Regions from separate parts of the Homo sapiens genome. Here region 1 is linked to region 2. The links come from fine-mapping of genetic effects on plasma protein levels. Region 2 holds a variant in brackets. A gene starts in the other region. All regions are shown on their reverse strands.

What was found. A credible set is the group of variants that fine-mapping cannot tell apart. PIP is the posterior inclusion probability: the model's chance that the variant is causal. The UK Biobank Pharma Proteomics Project read protein levels with antibody pairs (Olink). The fine-mapping took linkage between variants from a reference panel, not from the people measured, so its PIPs are less certain.
Region 1: it holds the start of PLA2G1B, and the variant in region 2 is the best candidate, but not a certain one, in a credible set for the plasma level of the PLA2G1B protein (UK Biobank, PIP 0.61).

What each region holds. Positions count from the first base shown.
Region 1 is chr12:120,327,502-120,338,065 of GRCh38, reverse strand. It overlaps PLA2G1B (phospholipase A2 group IB), which reads left to right and starts at 10,287. Exons shown (of 4, transcript NM_000928.3): 1 at 10,287-10,346. The coding sequence starts at 10,313. RefSeq lists an enhancer at 2,190-2,259.
Region 2 is chr8:128,547,226-128,558,156 of GRCh38, reverse strand. The region is part of intron 2 of LINC00824 (long intergenic non-protein coding RNA 824); the gene reads left to right. Among named protein-coding and RNA genes, the nearest start is that of LINC00824, 12 kb to the left of the region's middle. RefSeq lists a cis regulatory region at 1,289-1,299 and enhancers at 1,222-1,366, 2,680-2,974, 2,419-3,618. The variant C/T (reference allele first, on the strand shown) is at 4,741.

The sequences.
Region 1 (10,564 bases), not on the chromosome of region 2:
GTGAGGCCTCCCCAGCCAGGTGTAACTATAAATCCATTAAATCTTTTTTTCTTCCCAGTCTCAGGTACGTCTTTATCAGCAGCATGAAAACTGACTAATACATGTGAAAATGCCTGGATGTCCAGGCAGAAGTCAGCTGCAGGGGCAGAGCCCTCATGGGGAACCTCTGCTAGGTGTACTGCTATACAGATAACCTGAAACTTGTAGATGTGACTTTGGAATTGGATAACAGGCAGAGGTCGGAACAGTTTAGGGGGGGCTCAGAAGAAGACAGGAAGATGTGGGAAAGCTTGGAACTTCTTAGAGACTTGTTGAATGGTATTGACCAAAATGTTGATAGTGATATGGATAATGAAGTCCAGGCTGAGATGGTCTCAGATGGAGATGAGGAATTTACTTGGTCCTGGAGCAAAGGTCATTCTTGCTATGCTTTAGCAAAGGGACTGGTGGCATTTTGCTCCTGCCCTAGAGATCTGTGGAACTTTGAACTTGAGAGAGATTATTTAGGTTATCTGGCAGAAGAAAAATTCTAAGCAAAAAAGCATTCAAGAGGTGAGTGGCCTTTTCTGAAAGCATTCTATCATGTGCATTCACAAAGAGATGGTTTGAAATTGGGACTTATGTTTAAAAGGGAAGCAGAGCATAAAGGTTTGGAAAACTTGCAGCCTGACCATGTGGTAGAAAAGAAAAACCCATTTTCTGGGGATTCAAGCCAGCTGCAGAAATTTGCATAAGTAACAAAAAGCCAAATGTGTTAATGGCCAAGACCATGGGGGAAAATGTCTCCAAGGCACATCAGAAATCTTCATGACAGCCCCTACCATCACAGGCACAGAGGCCTAGGACAGAAAAATGGTTTCGTGGGTCAGATCCAGGGCTCCATTGCTCTGTGTAGCCCCCAGACATGGTGCCCTGCATCCCAGCCACTCCAGCTCCAGCTGTGGCTAAAAGGAGCCAAGGTACAGCTCGGGCCATTGCTTCAGAGGGTGCAAGCCACAAGCATTGTCAGCTTCCATGTGGTGATAGGCCTGCAGGTGTGCAGAAGAAAAGAGTTGAGGTTTGGGAACCTCTGTCTAGGTTTTAGAGGATGTATGGTGATATGGTTTGGCTGTGTCCCCACCCAAATCTCATCTTGAATTCCCACGTGTTGTGGGAGGGACCTGGTGTGAGGTAATTGAATAATGGGGGCAGGTCTTTCCTGTGCTGTTCTCATGATAGTGAATAAGTCTCATAAGATCTGATGATTCTATAAGGGGGAGTTTCCCTACACAAGGTCTCTTCTCTTACCTGCCACCATGTGAGACATGCCTTTCACTTTCTGCCATGATTGTGAAGCATCCTCAGCCATGTGGAAGTGTAAGTCCGTTAAATCTTTTTTTCTTCCCAGCCTCAGAAGTGTCTTTATCAGCAGCATGAAAATGGACTAATACATATGAAAATGCCTGGATGTCCAGGCAGAAGTCTGCTGCAGGGGCAGAGCCCTCATGGAAAACCTCTGCTAGGGCAGTGCAGAAGGGAAACGTGGGGTTGGAGCCCCCACACAAAATCCCCACTGGGGCATTGCCTAGTGCAGCTGAGAAGAGGGCCATCATCTTCCAGACCCCAGAAAGGTAGATCCACTGACAGCTCACACCATGTGCCTGGAAAAGCCACAGGTACATAGCCCCTGAAAGCAGCCATGGGGGCTGTACCCTGCAAAGCCACAGGATGGAGCTGCCTTAGGCCTTAGGAACCCACCCCTTACATCAGTGTGTAGGGTCCAGCCCCACAGGGTCAGTGGGTCTCTCCCCATGTGCAGAGACGAGAGAGTGTAGAAATAAAGACACAAGACAAAGAGATAAAAGAAAAGACAGCTGGGCCCGGGGAACCACTACCACCAAGTCACGGAGACCGGTAGTGGCCCTGAATGTCTGGCTGCACTGTTATTTATTGGATACAAAGCAAAAGGGGCAGGGTAAAGAGTGCGAGTCATCTCCAATGATACGTAAGGTCACGTGGGTCACGTGTCCACTGGACAGGGGGCCCTTCCCTGCCTGGCAGCCGAGGCAGAGAGAGAGAGGGAGAGAGAGAGACAGCTTACGCCATTGTTTCTGCTTATTAGAGACTTTTAGTACTTTCACTAATTTGCTACTGCTATCTAGAAGGCAGAGCCAGGTGTACAGGATGGAACATGAAGGCGGACTAGGAGCGTGACCACTGAAGCACAGCATCACAGGGAGACGGTTAGGCCTCCAGATAACCATGGGCGAGCCTGACTAATGTCAGGCCCTCCACAAGAGGTGGAGGAGTAGAGTCTTCTCTAAACTCCCCCAGGGAAAGGGAGACTCCCTTTCCCGGTCTGCTAAGCAGTGGGTGTTTTCCCTTGACACTTATGCTACCACTAGACCACGGTCCACCTGGCAACGGGCGTCTTCACAGACACTGGCGTTACCGCTAGACCAAGGAGCCCTCTGGTGGCCCTGTCCGGGCATAACAGAAGACTCGCACTCTTGTCTTCCGGTCACACCTCACTATGTCCCCTCAGCTCCCATCTCTGCATGGTCTGGTTTTTCCTAAGTTATGATTATAGAGCGAGGATTATTATAATATTGGAATAAAGAGTCATTGCTACCAACTAATGATTATTGATATTCATATATAATCATATCTAAGATCTATATCTAGTATAACTATTCTTGTTTTATATTTTATTATACTGGAACAGCTCATGTCCTCAGTCTCTTGCCTCGGCGCCTGGGTGGCTTGTCGCCCACACAGTGTGCCCTGGATGTGAGACATGCAGTCAAAGGAGATCATTTCAGAGCTTTAAGGTTTAATGACCGCACTGCTGGGTTTCGGACTTGCATGGGGCCTGTGACCCCTTTGTTTTGGCCAATTTCTCTCATTTGGAATGGGAACATTTACCCAATGCCTGTATCTGCGTTGTTTCTTGGAAGTAACCAACTTGTTTCTTATTTTACAGACTCATAGGTGGAGGGACTTACCTTGTCTCAGATGAGACTTTAAACTTGGACTTTTGGGTTATTGCTGGAATGAATTAAGACTTTGGAGGACTGTGGGGAAGGCATGATTGATTTTGAAATGTGAAAAGGACATAAGATTTGGGAGGAGCCAAGGAGGAATGATATGGTTTGGCTCTGTTTTCCCACCAAAATCTCATCTCAAATTGTATTCCCCAAGTGTGGAAGAAAGGACCTGGTGGAAGGTGATTGGATTATGGGGGCGTTTTCCCCCATGGTGTTCTCAAAAAAAAAAAAAAAGAAGAGAAAAAATATATAGTATATTTGAGTTTTAAAGCATAATAACACCCAGTAACCTCTATCCAACCCAATAGTCATTTCAAAAAAAAAAACAAAAAAACAAAAAAACAGTGGTTTAAAACTACATAACTATCAGAATCACCTAGAAAAAAAAATTTTTTTTTTTCGAGATGGAGTTTCACTCTGGTTGCCCAGGCTGGAGTGCAATGATGCGATCTTGGTTCACGGCAACCTCTGCCTCCCGGGTTCAAGCGGTTCTCCTGACTCAGCTTCCCAAGTAGCTGGGATTACAGGCATGCACCACCACACCCGGCTAATTTTTATATTTTTAGTAGAGACGGGGTTTCTCCATGTTGGTCAGGCTGGTCTCAAACTCCCAACCTCGGGTGATCCGCTGGCCTCGGCCTCCCAAAATGCTGGGATTACAGGCGTGAGCCACCATGCCTGGCCTGCTGAAAAAAAATTTAAATAAAAAAGAGCGGCTGGGCACGGTGGCTCATGCCTGTAATCCCAGCACTTTGGGAGGCCAAGGCGGGCAGATCACCTGAGGTCAAACGTTTAAGACCAACCTGGCCAACATGGCGAAACCCCATTTCTACTAAAAATACAAAAAAATTAGCCAAGCGTGATGGCGCATGCCTGTAATCCCAGCTACTTGGGAGGCTGAGGCTGGAGAATCACTTGAACCTGGGAGGCAGGGGTTGCAGTGAGCCGAGATTGCACCACTGCACTCCAGCCTGGGTGACAGAACCAGACATCGTCTCAAAAAAAAAAAAGAGAGAGAGACCACAGATTTCAGATCCTTATACCCAACCTGCACATCTTACATTCCAATAATCTGTATTACCTTTTTTTTTTTTTTTTGAAACAGGGTCTCCCTCTGTTGCCCAGGCTGGAGTAGAGTGATACAATCATAGCACAATGTGGCCTTGAATTCCTGACTCAAGCAATCCTCCTGCCTCAGCTTCCAGAATAGCTGGGATTATAAGCTTGAGCCATCATGCCTGGACTATATCACTCTTTAAGTTTTCCAGGGGAGTCCAGGGATCAGTCAAGTTTGGGAGCCACTGGCTACACTATCCCTTCTCCGGAGAGATGGAGGTAGACAGTGCCATTATAGCAGTTAGGAGGCTGTCAGGAAGATCCTGACACTGAAGATGGTGGCTTTGGGAGTGGAAAAGGTTTAGTTACACCGGTATACTGCCTCATTTTGCTCATTGGCACCTGATGGTGGGCTAGCCTATACAAGGCTCTTAGTATCCTTCCTAGCACAGCCTCACAGCATGTTAATTGCTGCTGTTGTTATCATTGGAGAGAGCAGGAATCAGAGGCAGGTAGACACAGGTTCAAATTTTTTCTCCACTTTCTAGCCATGTGACTTTGAGCAAGTTACTTACACTCTCTGAAACTGCTTCATCATCTATCTATAAGATGGGGAAGATGATGACAACTATCACAGTAATAATAACTATATCAGAAGAGTGTTGTTAGGCTGAAAGACAACATATGTAAAGCACAGTGCTAGCACAGTGCCAAGCGTATAGAAACACTCAGCAGATGGTAGCTGGTAGCTGCTGTTAAGCACTTCCTAGAAACAGGAGCCCTATCCTTTAGAAGCCAAATAGACCTGGCCGGGTGCGGTGGCTCACGCCTGTAATCCCAGCACTTTGGGAGGCCGAGGCGGGCGGATCACCTGAGGTCAGGAGTTCGAGACCAGCCTCAACATGGAGAAACCCCATCTCTACTAAAAATACAAAATTTGCTGGGTGTGGTGGTGCCTTCCTGTAATCCCAGCTACTCAGGAGGCTGAGGCAGGAGAATTGCTTGAACCTGGGAGGCGGAGGTTGCGGTGAGCTGAGATCACGCCATTGTACTCCAGCCTGGGCAACAAGAGCGAAACTCCATCTCAAAAAAAAAAAAAAAAAAAAAAAGAAGCCAAGTAGATGTGGCCTTGCTGAAGCGTGGGTACGCCCTCACCTGAAGGGGCCAAGCAGCTATGCTTAGCTGTTCTTTCCACTGAAGAGTGTGTTTTTCCCAGGCTGGGAGAGGCTGTGCTTCGCACACCTGTGCAGGGATCTGGGGTGGTGGAAGGTCAAGGTACAAAGAGTGTAGGGGCTTGGGGAGCTACCTAGTGCCCTTCCAGGTCCCTTATACTGTCACCTTTGTGGCAGGAGCCACAGAGGTCTGGGCTGTCACAGTGAGCATGTCTCTTTCCAGGGGGAGAGGGTTGTGGCAGCGGCCGGACCCCCTCCCCACCAGGTGCTTTGCCTAAACTCCAGCACGTGGAGTTTGTCCAGATTGTTCTTAGGAAGGCTTTCATGGGCTGGGGAAGGAGGGAAGTCGTAGGTTGGACTGAATCTCTTCCTTCCTCAAGGGACTTTCAGTACTCCCTAGCCTGAGATGGTAGCATGAGAACCAGATCGAACTCATATCTTGGTCCTGATGTGTGACTCTGGGGCAGTCACTTAACCTCTCTCAGCCTCAGCTGTCTTCTCTGTAAAATGAAGTTTGTACTGGACCTACCTCGACCTTTGTGCCAGGTTCTTAGCATATGGGACCTGGGATGGAGTTAGCGCTCAGTTAATAGTAACTCATTAGCCAGGTGCGGTGGCTCATGTCTGTATTCCCAGCACTTTGGGAGACCGAGTTGGGTGGATCACTTGAGAGCAGGAGTTTGAGACCAGCCTGGCCAACATGGCAAAACACTATCTCTAATAAAAATACAAAAATTAGCCAGGTGTGGTGGCACTTGCCTATAGTCCCAGCTACACAGGAGGCTGGGGCAGAAGAATCACTTGAACCTGGGAGGTGGAGGTTGCAGTGAGCCAAGATTGCACCACTGCACTCCAGCCTGGAAAAAAAGGGTAATTAATAACTTTACTTGCAACCATAGCTGCTTCTCCTTCTTTGAGCCACCCCCAATCACCCACTTAGCATCCTTCAGGCCTAAACCTAGGAGCAGTGCCTGGTCCTCTGTCTTGTTATGACCCCAAGGAACCCACATAAGAGGGACTGAACATTTTGCTGGGCAAGGCTTCCCTTTGCTTGGGCAGACTCCACTCATTCTGGGGCTGCAGAGGCAGGACCATTCAGTCAAGCTGATGTGGGATTCTGACCTAACCAAGTCCCCCTCCATTAGTCCTCATAGCCCCCACCTCCCATGGGGCAGCCCTGAGACAGGCTCTGTGACAATCCACAGCAGCCCTGTCCAACAGAACCTTCTGTGATCATGGAAACATTCTGTGGCTGCCAATCTGGCAGCCACTCGCCACATGTGTCTATGAGCCTTGAAATGTGGCCATTGTGACTGAGAAACTGAACTTTTAATGGTATTTCATTTTTATTTTTATTTTTTTTTTATTTATTTTGAGGCAGAGTCTCACTCTGTCACCCGGGCTGGAGTGCAGTGGCACTCGGCTCACTGCAAGCTCCGCCTCCCGGGTTCACGCCATTCTCCTGCCTCAGCCTCGGGAGTACCTGGGACAACAGGCACCCGCCACCACGCCCGGCTAATTTTTTGTATTTTTAGTAGAGATGGGGTTTCACCATGGTCTCGATCTCCTGACCTCAGGTGATCCACCCGCTTCGGCCTCCCGAAGTGCTGGGACTGCAGGCATGAGCCACCACGCCCGGCCCAGAAAAGAGATGATTAAACATAAAGCAGCCATGTGATGAAATGGCACTTTGCCTCTGTGGTCTTCCTCCCCCAAACCCATAACTGTAATCTAATTATGAGAAAAACACAGGACAATTCCAATAGAGAGCCAGGTGCAGTGGTTCACGCCTGTAATCCCAGCACTTTGGGAGGCTGAGGCGGGCAGATCATGAGGTCAAGAAATCAAGACCATCCTGGCCAACATGGTGAAACCCCGTCTCTACTAAAAATACAAAAATTAGCTGGACGCAGTGGTGTGCACCTGTAGTCCCAGCTACTCGGGAGGCTGAGGCAGGAGAATCATTTGAACCCGGGAGGCAGAGGTTGCAGTGAGCTGAGATCGCGCCACTGCACTCCAGCCTGGTGACAGAGTGAGACTCCGTCTCAAAAATAAATAAAAATAAATAAATAAAAATTAGCTGGGCGTGGTGGCACGTGCCTGTAATCCCAGCTACTCAGAGGCTGAGGCACAAGAATCACTTGAACCTGGGAGACAGAGATTGCAGTGAGCCGAGATTGTGCCACTGCACTCCAGCCTGGGCGACAGAGTGAGACTACAACAAACACACACACACACACCCACACACACACACACACAAATTCCAAGAGAGGGTCATCCTGACCAATACTCCTCAAAACTATCAAGGTTGCTGGGCACAGTGGCTCACGCCTGTGATCCCAATGCTTTGGGAGGCTTAGATGGGAGGATCACTTGAGGCCAGGAGTTCAAGACCAGCCTGGGCAACATAGGGAGACGCCGTGTCTCCAAAAATTTTTTTGAGACAGAGTCTCGCTGTGTCGCCCAGGCCGGAGTACAGTGGCGTGATCTCGGCTCACTGCAAACTCTGCCTCCTGGGTTCACGCCATTCTTCTGCCTCAGCCTCCCAAGTTGCTGAGATTACAGGCACCCGCCACCATGCCCAGCTTATTTTTTGTATCTTTAGTAGAGACAAGGTTTCACTGTGTTAGCCAGGATGGTCTCCATCACCTGACCTCGTGATCCGCCTGCCTCGGTCTCCCCAAGTGCTGGGATTACAGGTATGAGCCACCGTGCCTGGCCCAAAAAATTTTTTTAAATTAGCCAGGTGTGGTGACACATGTCTGTAGTCCCCACTAATCGGGAGGCTAAGGTGGGAGGATTGCTTGAGCCCAGGAGGTTGAGGCTGCAGTGAACTATGATCGTGTCACTGCACATCAGTCTGGGAAACAGAGCGACACTTTGTCTCAAAAAAAAAAAACAGATAAATAAATTAAATAACCAGGCCCTCCTTATCCCACAGGGTTGTTGTAGAGGTGACATAGGAACAGAAGAGCACCAAGTTAACCAATTATAAATCTATATAGAGAGAAGCAGATCAGAGGCCAGGCACAGTGGCTCATGCCTATAATCCCAGCATTTTGGGAGGCTGAGGAGTGGATCACCTGAGGTCAAGAGTTTGAGACCAGCCTGACCAACATGGTGAAACCTTGTCTCTACTAAAAATACAAAAATTATCCAGGCATGCTGGCAGGCGCCTGTAATTCCCAGCTACACGAGAGGCTGAGGCAGGAGAATCGCTTGAACCTGGGAGGCGGAGGTTGCAGTAAGCCGAGATCGTGCCATTGCACTCCAGCCTGGGCGACAAGAGCGAAACTCTGTCTCAAAAAAAAAAGAGAGAGAGAGAGAGAAGCAGATTAGCAGTTACCAGGGGCTGAGGGAGTGTGACTGCTAATGGGTACAGGGTTTCCTTCTGGAGTGATAAAAATGTTCTGGAACCCCATAGAGGTGATGGTTGCACAACACTGTGAAGGTACTAAATGCCCCCGAATTGTTTACTTAAACGTGGTTAATGTTATGTGAATTTCAGCTAAACAATGTTATGTAGATATTTGGCCGGGCGCGGTGGCTCACGCCTGTAATCCCAGCATTTTGGGAGGCCGAGGCAGGTGGATCACGAGGTCAGGAGATCGAGACCATCCTGGCTAATGCGGTGAAACCCCATCTCTACTAAAAATACAAAAAAAAAAATTAACCGGGCGTGGTGGTGGGTGCCTGTAGTCCCAGCTACTTGGGAGGCTGAGGCAGGAGAATGGCATGAACCTGGGAGGCAGAGCTTGCAGTGAGCCAAGATCGCGCCATTGCACTCCAGCCTAGGCAACAGAGCAAGACTCCGTCTCAAAAAATATATATAAATAAATAGATATGTGATGTGACAGGTTTTTTTTTGAGATGGAGTTTTGCTCTTGTTCCCTAGGCTGGAGTGCAATGGCGTGATCTCAGCTCACCGCAACCTCCGCCTCCAGGGTTCAAGCCATTCTCCTGCCTCGGCCTCCGGAGTAGCTGGGATTACAGGCATAAGCCACCATGCCTGGCTAATTTTGTGTTTTTAGTAGAGACAGGGTTATTCCATGTTGGTCAGGCTGGTCTCGAACTCTCCACCTCAGGTGATCTGCCAGCCTCAGCCTCCCAAAGTGCTGGGATTACAGGCATGAGCCACCGTGCCTGGCCTCTGATATGACAGTTCTAATGCCCTTTAGTATTCTATAATTCAGACTCAGGCCTTTGGAATCCAAAGCCCAGGTTTTTCTCACAAACCCACACTGCAGAGCGGAGTGGTGGAAAAAAATAAAACCTCTGCCTTGGAATCAGACAGATCTAAACTGGAGCCCTATTTTGTCATTTGCCAACTGTGTGACCTTGGGCAAGTTACCGCAACTCTCTGAACCTGTCTCTTTATCTGCAAGGTGCACGACTGATGGGACTATTCAACCAGACCCAGTGCACAGATTCAGGCACTTGATAAGACATTGAGGCTGCAGGCAGCGATCTTTTTTCTTTCTTTCTTTTTTTTTTTTTTTTTTTGAAATAGGGTCTCACTCTGCTGCAGAGGCTCAATCACTGTTCATTGCAGCCTTGACCTCCCTGGCTCAAGAGATCCTCCCATCTCAGCCTCCTGAGTTGCTGGGATCACAGGTGCAATCCACCACCACACCTGGTTAACATTTTTTTTTTTAGAGATGAGGTCTCTCTATGTTGCCCAGGCTGCACTTCCTTCTTGTCTCCCTTATCCCAGCGTCCGACTGAACTGACGGCTTTGCTTTCCCCAACCAGCCCGTGAAGCTGGGCTGAGTACAAAGTGGTGGGTATGAGGGTCAAGATTGTAAGATCTGAAAACTCCAGAAACCATCCCTTTGGTTAACAGTTGCTAAGGACAAATGCATAACATATTTTCCAGTGATCCCATGCTGGCAAATCGTCAGGGTCATTCCTGCAACAGACAGATTCAAGGCCAGCCCCAAACTCAGCCAAGAGCAAAGCAAACACTCCAGCCTTATCTGGGCAGGGTTGTGTGGAGACTGACTATAAGACTATACCTGAGACTGGTCATCTCAGTTCTTTTCTCACCTTGACTGCAAGATGAAACTCCTTGTGCTAGCTGTGCTGCTCACAGGTAGGCAAGTCTCCCCGGCTCCACCCGCCTTTCTCTCCCAAGTGAGCTAAGATCTCACTCCTCTGGAATGGGGGCCACAGGCCACAGCAAACAGGGATGGCCAGCCCCGCAGTCTCAATTCGAGGTTCCCAGTGGGGCTTAAGGGCTCCTCTATTGGGGTTCCCTCAAGGCTGGCACTTTTTCAACCTGCAAGTCTGAACTCAGATTGCCTGAGCTAA
Region 2 (10,931 bases):
TAAACAGTGTGAACCTCAGTTTTCTCATCTATAAAATGGAGACATTCATTAATCAAGTGTTGTTGTTGAAGGCACAAATGTAGAGCGTTTGTGAAGTCCTTAGTCCTATACTTGGCATGTGGTATGCAATAAATATTGATTGGTTGATTTGGCCAACAAATATTATAGTTCCTGATACTTGGAAACTGATGTTTACCTTTTTAGTAGCTCTGATACCCATAGTTGATCCCCTGATCCCCTGGATCCACAGTGATCCAATGAGTGAAATCAGACAAAGATGTTTATCTCCACTTTTAAAAGTAAGGAGGCAGGCTTAGGGGGCTACACAAAACTTCCAAAAGTTGCACAGTGAATACAGAATAAACCTGAGAATAGATTCCAAGTATTTAGACTAAGTTTTAAGCGCCTTATAATTTATCACCCATCCTTTGATCTTTGTCTTCTTCCACAAATATTATTGAGTTTCTGTGACGAGCTAATCCCTGTGGTGAATAGAGTATTCTATGTCCTGAGAGTGGAGGCTTATGTATCTCACAATCCTGCCCTTCGAATCTCGCCCTCCTCCCGTTTTATGATCAGAAATGTGTTCTATTCAACTCTGTCAGTGGAAACTAGTAGAGAGCCTGGCACAAAGTAAGTGCTCATTAAATAGCTAGTCAATGAGATTATTGATCAATAGATTATTCTAATACAGTTTTTTCCATGACAACTGTCCCTAGAATTGCAGGTACTGAGCAGAAGGAGGAACCTTTTCTCTGCAGAACCTCATAGGTGTGCAGTAATGCATAGGCTTTGAAGACAAATAGACCAGTATTAAATCCCAGCGCTGTGTGACTTTGGACAGCATGAACCTCAGTGAAGTTTATCTGGAATAAACTTTACCTGAAGTTCATTAGAAACTTCAATGTCTTTATCTGGAAAATGCAGCCAATAATACTTGCCTGGCAAACTTGTTTTGAGAATTAAATTAGTTGACCAGCTGAAAGTGCCTAGGTTAGTAAGCTGTCACGTAGGAGGTGCCAGATCAATGGCAGTGATTATTACTTGTGCAAGGTACAAGAGGTGGCATCAATTTGAGATTCATAAATATGCTAGGTATGTAGTGGGACCATCACCCTTATTAGAATTATAGCTGGAATATCCCATTGGGTTAAGCTGCACTCTGAATACAGGGTTCCTTCTCAGATTGAGAAACCCTTTGTGAGCCTTCTCTTCACCACTGTACATGCGGAGGTAGGAACAAGTGCTGGCCTTCCACCACTGCTTCCTCTCACCCCGTGGGGAGGGTGGCTGAGTCATGCTGACTTGCACCCAGTGCAGCTTGCACTCGTGTCATTACAGTGCAGAGGTCTGCAGGCGCCACCAAAGTGAGTTCTGGCTTTTTATCCTCCTTGTTACAAAGGCCAGAATCACACATAGAACAGAATGTAAACAAATTTTCCAAGCCTCTATTTGTTCTCAAATTGGTCAATGTTTCCTGTCCCACTGCCCCCGGATCCCCACCCTCCACTCTAAACCTCAAAGACTAAAAATGCAAATAAGTGAAATCTTCAACAGTTATTGATTTGAAGAGAAGCTTTGAGCTTGAAACCCTGATTTTTTTTTTAGATTATTTGTAGCACTTTAAGTACAAACTTGGACAATTTATTTTCTGCATAGTTTTGAAAATGTTTATAGAATAACTGAACCCAGAAATATGAAGGACTAAAACCTAGAAACCCAATAAATAAAAAGTGGAAACAATCTTAATGATAAATAAGAGGAAAATGATCAACTAAAACTGTGAAATTGTGACACACTTATATATTGAAATACTATCCCTAAAACAATGTTAGTTTTAGTGACATTAGAAAAATGTTTAAAATATAATGTGTATAAACAGAGATAGAAAACTCGGCATACAGCAGGATTCCAATTGTTAAATATGTTTAAAATGTACCAAGACGACTTCTATATATGATTATAATGATTATTATTTTTACCTGTTCTTTATGCATATCCACCTTTATACAACAAATGCTTAAAATCATTATACTCAAAAATGTTTTAAAAATGTAATTGTATAACTAATTTTCAATCGTCTTTGCCCTTGAAAGGGAGTTCTAAGACCAATCACTTCAGTAAGAACTTAACTAGTAAACACTTGTCTCTCATGAGGTTATAGTCATTCTCATTGACATGAACAGGTTAAAGACAGCAAGAAATGTGTTTGTGAAAAGTCAAGTGCCGTCTGAGTTGCCAAATTTCTGGAGAACAGTGTTGTATGGAATAAAACGAAAATAAAATCCTAGATTGTGAGTTAGGAAATCAAAATGTTAATACTAGCTGTGCCACTAAATGGTTGTAGAGCTGGACTAGCTTACTTCCCCTCTTTGTTTTTGACTTGTTTCATTTGTAAAATGAGAAAAAAATCACTCCTTCACTCGTTCATTTATTCACTTCTTTAAGAAATGTTTCTCAAGGTTATATTGTGGGTTGAGTACTATTGTAGACACTGAGGACAGATCAGTGGAAAAACACAAATGTGGCTCTTGCCTTCAGAGAACTTATGGTCCAGTGGGGAAGAAAAAGCATGGACTACTAACTAAGTAAATATGTGTAATAGTATCAGGTGCTGTGAAGGAAAATGAAGCCAGGTAAGGAGAAAGAGAGCAGCCTGCAAGGTCCCTAAGGAGGTGATTTGTAAGTAGATAACTGAGTGAAACATAGAAGCAAATCTTGCTGCAATCCAGAGGGGAGGGTGTCCCAGGTAGAGGGAATAGCCTATGCAATATACGGGAAACAGAAGTGTGGCTGCAGTCGAGAGACTCAGGCAGAGAGTGACGAAAATGAAAGTCAATTCTTTTCCACTGCCGTATAACCAAATAGAATCCATGGGAGAGCCTGTCGGCAAGCTCAAAATGCTCCTGGCGCACTTGAGCTCTAAAGTCCAAGGCCTTCACACAGGGAATGCATTACAGGAACTTCATCAGTTCTGCCGTGATGCTTTGAAGGCCCGCTGTGCAACTATTAGCTGATCCCACTTAACAGACAGTGACGCAGTCACCAGGCATGTTTGTGCCCAAGCAGGTGATGATTTTCTCTCCACTGACTCCAGTCAAGGACTTTTCCCTTCCAGGTTTCAGGCTCCAGGTGACATTGGGCACAGAGGGTCAGGTGGAAAGTGAACAGGTCACGCGCCGGGCAGGTGACACGATCGGTGCTCTGCTCACATTTCAAAGAGCCCACTTTTCCTCCTATGTGTCAAGCACACAGTTACTTTGAATGCTGCAGAGTAAGATGATTCATCAATTTCCGAACGCTTGAGAAAGGAATCACTGTTTAGATATTTTAAATGTTTTCCTAACCCTTACAGAGGTAGCTATAGCTCAGGAAGATAAACTGAAATGAAGGTAAGAACAAAAAAAGAAGCAATTGCTCTCATCTATAATTATAAGCTTTATCATTTATTGTGCACTGATAGTTGCATTTCCAAGCAGACATTATTAATTAGTGAAATAATGAGGCAATTTGCATTCATCCTGATTCAGAAAAATTCAAACTACTTCAACAGACCAAGCATAGGTAACTCAGCCTAATTACTTTTTGCTTTTTTATTAGATGAGGAAACCGAGGCATATAAATGGAATGGATCATGAAATGAAGTAAAGTTAAAGAAGTTTTAGTCAAAGCTTCATAGAAATCAGATTTTCATCAAGGATGAAAGTGAATTGGGATTATTTGTAGAGATGTATTAGAGTAGAAGGAGGTTAATTACTTTCTGATTAGGTTAACCTCTGAGTATCACCATCAGCTTTGGCAGGTTATCTAAGCTCTCTGAGTCAGTTTCTCTACCCATAAAATGGAGCTGTCAATCCTTGTCTGACATGCATGATTGTTCTACAGAATAAATGAAAAACCTATGTGCCTGCAAAACAAAAGTGGGTTGTCATGTGAATGGATGGCTACTGCCCAGAGCCCAGGAGAAGCACCATTTCAGGAGCGGGGTGGGGAGGAGGCTCTGCATTAACCTAGAGTGTGTTGGGCTACATAGTTCTGGAAGAACTTCTATCCAGCAAGCTGGGACCACACAACAGAATGAAATTAAAATCAGCTTAAGAGATGTGTGTGATGTCTAGATGGGTTTCTAGTCTGAGGCATACAGAAGAATCCTGGCAGATCTGTTTTCCACACACACAAAAAAAGAATAGAGCCAGGAGAGTTTGGAACCAAGTGGTTCCAACCATATATCCAACCATCCAATGACCTGATTCTGAAATGAGTTGATTTGTGAAAGCATTTGTAGGCCTGCTTTTACAGGATGCTAGGTTTGTGACACAGAGAAGCTCTCATGGCTAAAATGTTCTGCTCTGTGCAATTAGAACTGACAGCATATATCTAAAAAATGGCATTCACAAGTACTTTACGCACTTTAGGAAAACACTTATATTGGACAAGCATAAATAGCAAGGGGCCAGGAGGCCCCTTTCCTATGTTAGTTTCTTTTTGTTTTGTTTTTAAACAAGGGTCAACCAGTCTTCTGAGGTAAAACAGAAGAAACAATAAATAATCAGAAACACAATGTCACGAAGGCTCTTTGCTTTTTAAACTCAAAGAAACACAAGCTGAGAGAGGTTTAGTCACTTCACTCAGATTACAAAGTGTAGACAGTGTTAAATCAGAATCCTGAGTCAGGGATCTTCCCTTCCAAGCAAGGTGTTTTCTTACTTCACCCAACATGCCTCTTCATGGATGCACCTT[C/T]CTGAGTTGCAGCCAGCTCCTCGGAGGGTAAGATGACTGTCATTTCTGAGTCCGAAGATCAGGCCATGATGTGGTTTGGCTGTGTCTCCGCCCACATCTCATCTTGAATTGTAACTCCCATAATTCCCACGTGTTGTGGAAGGAAACTGGTGGGAGATAACTGAATCATAGGGGCAGTTTCCCCCATACTGTTTTAGTGGTAGTGAAAAAGTCTCACAAGATCTGATGGTTTTATAGGGGAAAACCTTTTTGCTTGGTTCTCATTCTCTCTTGCCTGCTGCCATGTAAGATGGGCCTTTTGCCTTCCAGCATGCTTGTGAGGCCTCCCAGTCACGTGGAACTGTGAGTCCATTAAACCTCTTTTTCATTATAAATCACCCAGTCTCAGGTATGTCTTTATTGGCAGTGTGAGAAAAGACTAATGCAGGTCACTCAGGATTCTCATCCCAGAGAGAATAAAATGAAAAGCAAAGTTGTTGAGCAAAAAGCAATATGCTGTTTGGACTCAGAGATCTGGCTGTGGTCTCAGATAAGTCAATGAACTTCATTGAGTGTCAATTTCCTCATCTGTTAAATATGGATAGTGGAGGCTACCTTGCTGATTTGTTTGGGCATCGAATGTTACAAGAAAATGACATGTGAGAGACATTAATAAAGAGGAAAACAGCAAAGAAACATCTCTGTTCTTTCTCCTTCTGCTTCACTTTCTTCTCCTCAATGCTATTATTATCTTTTATCATCTTACCCTCATTCAATGGCATGAAAATAGCTTCTCATTTCATCTAGGTCTTCATCACATATATTTGATTTGATTTGCTTTATTGGGCTCTAGGAGTATGAACACAGTACAGATTGTCTTACATTGGCCTTATCTTTCTTCAAGCTGCACTCATCTTTCTGAATAACCTGAATGAAGGCAGGAAGCAGGATGACAAGGGGCTCTGCATCTTTCCGTATTTATCATTTGGTAGGAATAATGTAAGGATTCTATGTTTCCCCCACCATCGACTGTAATATTCTATTCTATTGTCTTGAATTGCTTGTGATAAGGAGGGAGTGTTCGTTAAATATTATCTAGCTAATAGTACCCTTATTTGTATAGGGCACCTGTTATCCCAAGGTTTCACTTTACCCAACAAATATCTCATTATCTAAACGATACATCCCAATGCCACCAATAACGAAATCTCCTCCACAACCTCAGTTTCCAAAAGAACTAAAAGTTCTAAAAAGAATTCTTTGGTTGTGTTTCTAGGCTGTTTTCCCACCCCTTGGAAAATATTGTGTCACAGACTTTATTTTTCTGTTGAGACCCAGGAAGCAATAAGGTCTGAGGCACTAGGTTGGGAGACAGGAGGTCCATGCTTTGACGGTGATTGTGGTGGTTATTTTGATGATATCATACTTGATCACTTACCACATGGCTTTCGATTCTTATGTTTTAATTGATGTAATTCTAACCAAAATATCGGTCAGGGTATTTTTGATATAAGGAACACAAGAACCAACTGAGAATGGTATAAATAAAAGACAATATTATTATCTCACTTAAAACACTTGTGATGGTAGGATGCTTTCAGGATTGGCTCCACACCTTGGGATTCTCGCCTCTTCAGCCTGTCGGCTTTTGCCTTCAGATGTTTCCTCTCAATGAACAAGGTGGCTACTGTAGCTCCAGGCATCATAATAATATGCAAAATTTAAAATGGGAAATGAAAATCTGTTTTCGAGCCCCTTTTTAAGAACAAGAACAAGGAAAATTTGCTAAAAGCCCACTAGAGAACTTCCCTCCATGTATCACTGACCCCATGTCCATTATTAAGATATTCACAGGCAAGGGAGGAAAACTGCTGCCCTTGGCTTAAATTGGCCAGTACATGCCCACATGTGCACGTACATGCACACACACACATGCACACACACACGTGCACGCGCACACACACACACACACACACACCATTCCATGGATAACGCTGAGGAGGGACACAGACTCTCGTAAAGCAAAAGAATGCCAATTAACTCATCACCGTTAAGATTCTATTAGCAGGCAAAAACGGAAAGAACAACCATCAGCTAAGTAGCTATTGTTAGCCTGAGAAGCAGAGGTTCAGAGTAGTTATTAACTACACCAGTCAGGGTAAATTGACCACTGTGACAAAGGACTTTAAAAATTAGTGGACTAATAGAACGAAAGTTTCTATCCTCCCATTCAGCTGGCAATAGAGAAAGAGAGGGAAAATTGTTCATGGAATGTTCTGGGTCAGGCCTAAAAGTGCTGCATATCACTCAGCTCACATCCCATTGGATATAACTCAGCCCCCTGGGCACACAACTGCAAGGGAGAGAAAGAAAGGGGAGCACTCTCCCATGGTCACAGAGCAGGTGGCCCAGCAGAGATGTCACGCCAAGTAGGTCTCATGCATGGGTGAAGCCACATTGCCTGTCATCCTGATAGTCCTCCTACCTGTGTGGCACTTTTAGGTATCAATGAATTTAATTTTCCTATCAACACATTTCCTGCTGAAACCATCTATGGTCATTCCTGCCCTTATCATGGTAAGTTTTAAATTGTCCTTTTAAAACTCACTCATATCTTGCCTGAGGTCTCAATTTCTTTGACCTCTTGGATATTAGATGTTATTGGCTCCCTGTTCTAGAATCATCACCTTTCCTCAGTTCTCAGACATTAACTATTCCTGTCTTTCTGCCAGCCCATCCTCTTTTTCTTTTTCCCCTTCTTTCTGATCCCAGTTGTTTTCCCTCTACCCATCTCCCTATGGAAAACTCTGCCCTTGACGATGGCTCCATTCTGATCTTTGTATTAACATCTGCAAAATGCACATTATTATTCTGAGCCTGTCACCTGACCATAGGCAGTAATTCAGATGTTAACATTATTACAATGACTACTGTTACCTATATTCACACTATCATTATTATTACTCCTACAAATGTCTTGGTACATATCAGATATTAATGGTAAGTACTTTTCTCATTTTATCTTTTATTTATTTATTTTTGAGGCGGAGTTTCTCTCTTGTTGCAGGCAGGCTGGAGTGCAATGGCGCCATCTTGGCTCACTGCAACCTCCGCCTCCCAGTTCAAGTGATTCTCCTGCCTCAGCCTTCCTGAGTAGCTGGGATTACAGGCATGCACCACCACACCCGGCTAATTTTGTATGTTTATTAGAGACAGGGTTTCTCCGTGTTGGTCAGGCTGGTCTCAAACTACCTACCTCAGGTGATCCACCCACCTTGGCCCCCCAAAGTGTTGGGATTACAGGCGTGAGCCACTGTGCCCGGCCTCATTTGATCTTTTAAATCTCTCATAAATCCTAGGGATTTGTTTCCCCACCCCTCACTTTTGTTTTAGAAAAGAAAGCTGAGGGTTACAGAGAAAAATAAAATGCTACTAAGTGGAAGAACAGGATTTCAAAACTATACAGTCTGACTCCAAAGCCAAAACCATTAGCCTGTATGCACAATTGCTTCTCAGACCTATAGGACTCCGCAAATCGCATGCTGTTAGTTCCCTTTAAGTATCTCTGAGCTTGACCCAAAGCTAAGCACATAGTAAGTGCAGACAAGTGCTAAATATAAACTCATCACACCCAACGGCAAGTAGATCCTCTTCTGACAAAATCTACATCTCCCAAATTCTTCTTTTTGCCATGTTTTCTCGAATTATGTTTATATTGTTTCATCCTTGTTGATACATGCTCTTTCTTAGAGACACGGACAATGACATCAGATACAATTTATCAAAAACTTATCCTATTCCAGACAATGCTCTTCACGCTCTAACTCTATGAGATTAGCCTCATTATTATTCCCATTTTACAGATGGGAAACAAGCTTAAAGACTAAGTGGTTGAGATGGGGTAATCACATTGAAGTTCAACTCTACCATTCACATTCCTATCCTTTAAGTTCTATTGCCTGTGGCAATGCCACTAACTCCAGTACATTCCTTTCATAGAATCTCTTGAGGCTGTATTTGTTACTTCTTAGTCCTGTTGCCAAGACCCAGAGTAGATTCTCAAGTATCTGATTATGTAAACAGCCTCCTTGCTAAGCTATAACTAGTCCCCTCACCCTTTTAAATCAATGTTAGTAGTTACCATTATTTTAATTGACCCCATTATCTGCTCTCCTGGTGTCTATTACTATCATCTTCCAAAATCTTCATTCTGTGTTAGTCAAAGATTCCTTGTGTCTACATAGGACATATTTATCATTCTCTCCATGATTTAAGCTTAGTAAGGAGTATTGGGTGGGGCTTTCAAAGCATCCTGCACATTAGACTATGAGGAAGGTAATCCAGATGAATCCAGGCATCAACTCCCAGGATTATTCTCATTGTTTCCTCAATCACTTTCCACTTTGTTGGCTCTTAAGGAGCACCCAGTCAGTGTTTATGGGAAGTACTTGATCAGTAAAAAGAACAGACTTTGGATTTATCCATTCATCCCACAACCACCACTCAGTAAATTGACCACCTAAGTGCTAGACTCTATCACATTACCTGGATGGATATCATTAGAATTAAATGAGGTAATAGTCAAGTCTTGGCTGGGCGCAGTGGCTCATTCCTGTAATCCCAGAACTTTGAGTGGCCGAGGCAGGTGGATGACTTGAGGTCAGGAGTTCAAGACCAGCCTGGCCAACATGGCAAAACCCTGTCTCTACTAAAAATATGAAAATTAGCCAGGTGTGGTGGTGCACACCTGTAGTCCCAGCTACTTGGGAGGCTGAGGCATGAGAATCACTTGAACCCAGGAGGTGGAGTTTGCAGTGAGCCGAGGTCACGCCACTGCACTCCAGCCTAGGCGACAGGGCAAGACTCTGTCTCAAAAAAAAAAAAAAAAAGAAAAGAAAAAAAAGAAAAAAGAAAAGAAAAAAAAGAAAAAAGAAAGAAATAAAGAAAAAGAAAAAAAAAAAAGTCTTTAGAATAGTTCCAGGCACATAGTAAGTAAACTATACATATGTAAGTATGAATCCCCATTTCCTCTTGAATAAATGAATGTGTCAATGAATTCTCAAACTTACTGTTTCTTATCATGTTGTTAAGCTGTGTCTCTTCTCCTGGTACTTTGCACTGGCTAGTCCCCCAAATCTGCCACTTGGTGCATGGAATGACTGTGATGCCCAGCCAGTTTTTCCCCAGTATGGATCCTGCTAACTGTTGGTTTTGATTCTGCCTACCAGCCCTGCATTATTTTCACTTAACATCGATCCAGCAAATATTTATCCAGTACCTATGATGTTCCTGGCACTGGGCTGGGCTCTGTAGATACAATGGTAAGCAAGATGTGTATGACCCCGAAAAGAAAGGAACAGTAATAATTAGGCGTAAAAAAGAATATGCTTGTGAAGTCTAGGGTACAATGAGAGAACACACTCAAAGCAAAGCACAATATATCCATAAAACGATATTTGTCTTTCTTACTTGCCTGAGGTGATCTTTCCTTTCCCTTATGCCAGTTCAATCCTACTCATTTTAGGATGCTACTGGGTATAGCTACAGAACACAATACAACACAAAACCTAAAATGACTTCAGCAGCATAAGACAAAGCTCGTTTTTGTTTTTGTTTAATTCATGTGATTGCATAGTCCAGGGATAATTGATTTTAGGAGAAGCTTCATCTTATAACTCAAGGTAGGACCTAGAATAGCTTTCTCTCCATTTCTCAGCTCTAATTGTTCTGCATTTACTCCATTTTGGCAAGCTCCTTCTCTACTGGTCTCGAAATTATTGTTATTGGCTGCCAAGGATGCATGCTTCCTGGTTCACCAACAGCAAGGAGGGGTGTATCAAATAAAAGTCCTGGCTTTTGCCTAATTAGCACTCCCCACCCCCATAAGTACTGTAGCTACTGTACGGGTAGACAGAAGAATGTATGTTGAGTAGGTAAGTACTGAGCCACATGCCTCACCTCTAGACCCAGGGATGAGGTTAACTTACCTAAATTATATGGTCTTCCTGAGAGAGGAGTCGTGTATAGGAATCATGCACATTTCTTCATATTTAAACTTATTGCAAAATTGCCATAAAAATTGTGTTTCAATCTTAACCCCCACCAACAGCAAATGAAGGTTGTCATTTCTTTACATTCTCATTAACACTTGGTATCTTTTGAACCTTATTAATGCTAATTCTTAAAGATGTGAAATGGAATCTTACTGTATG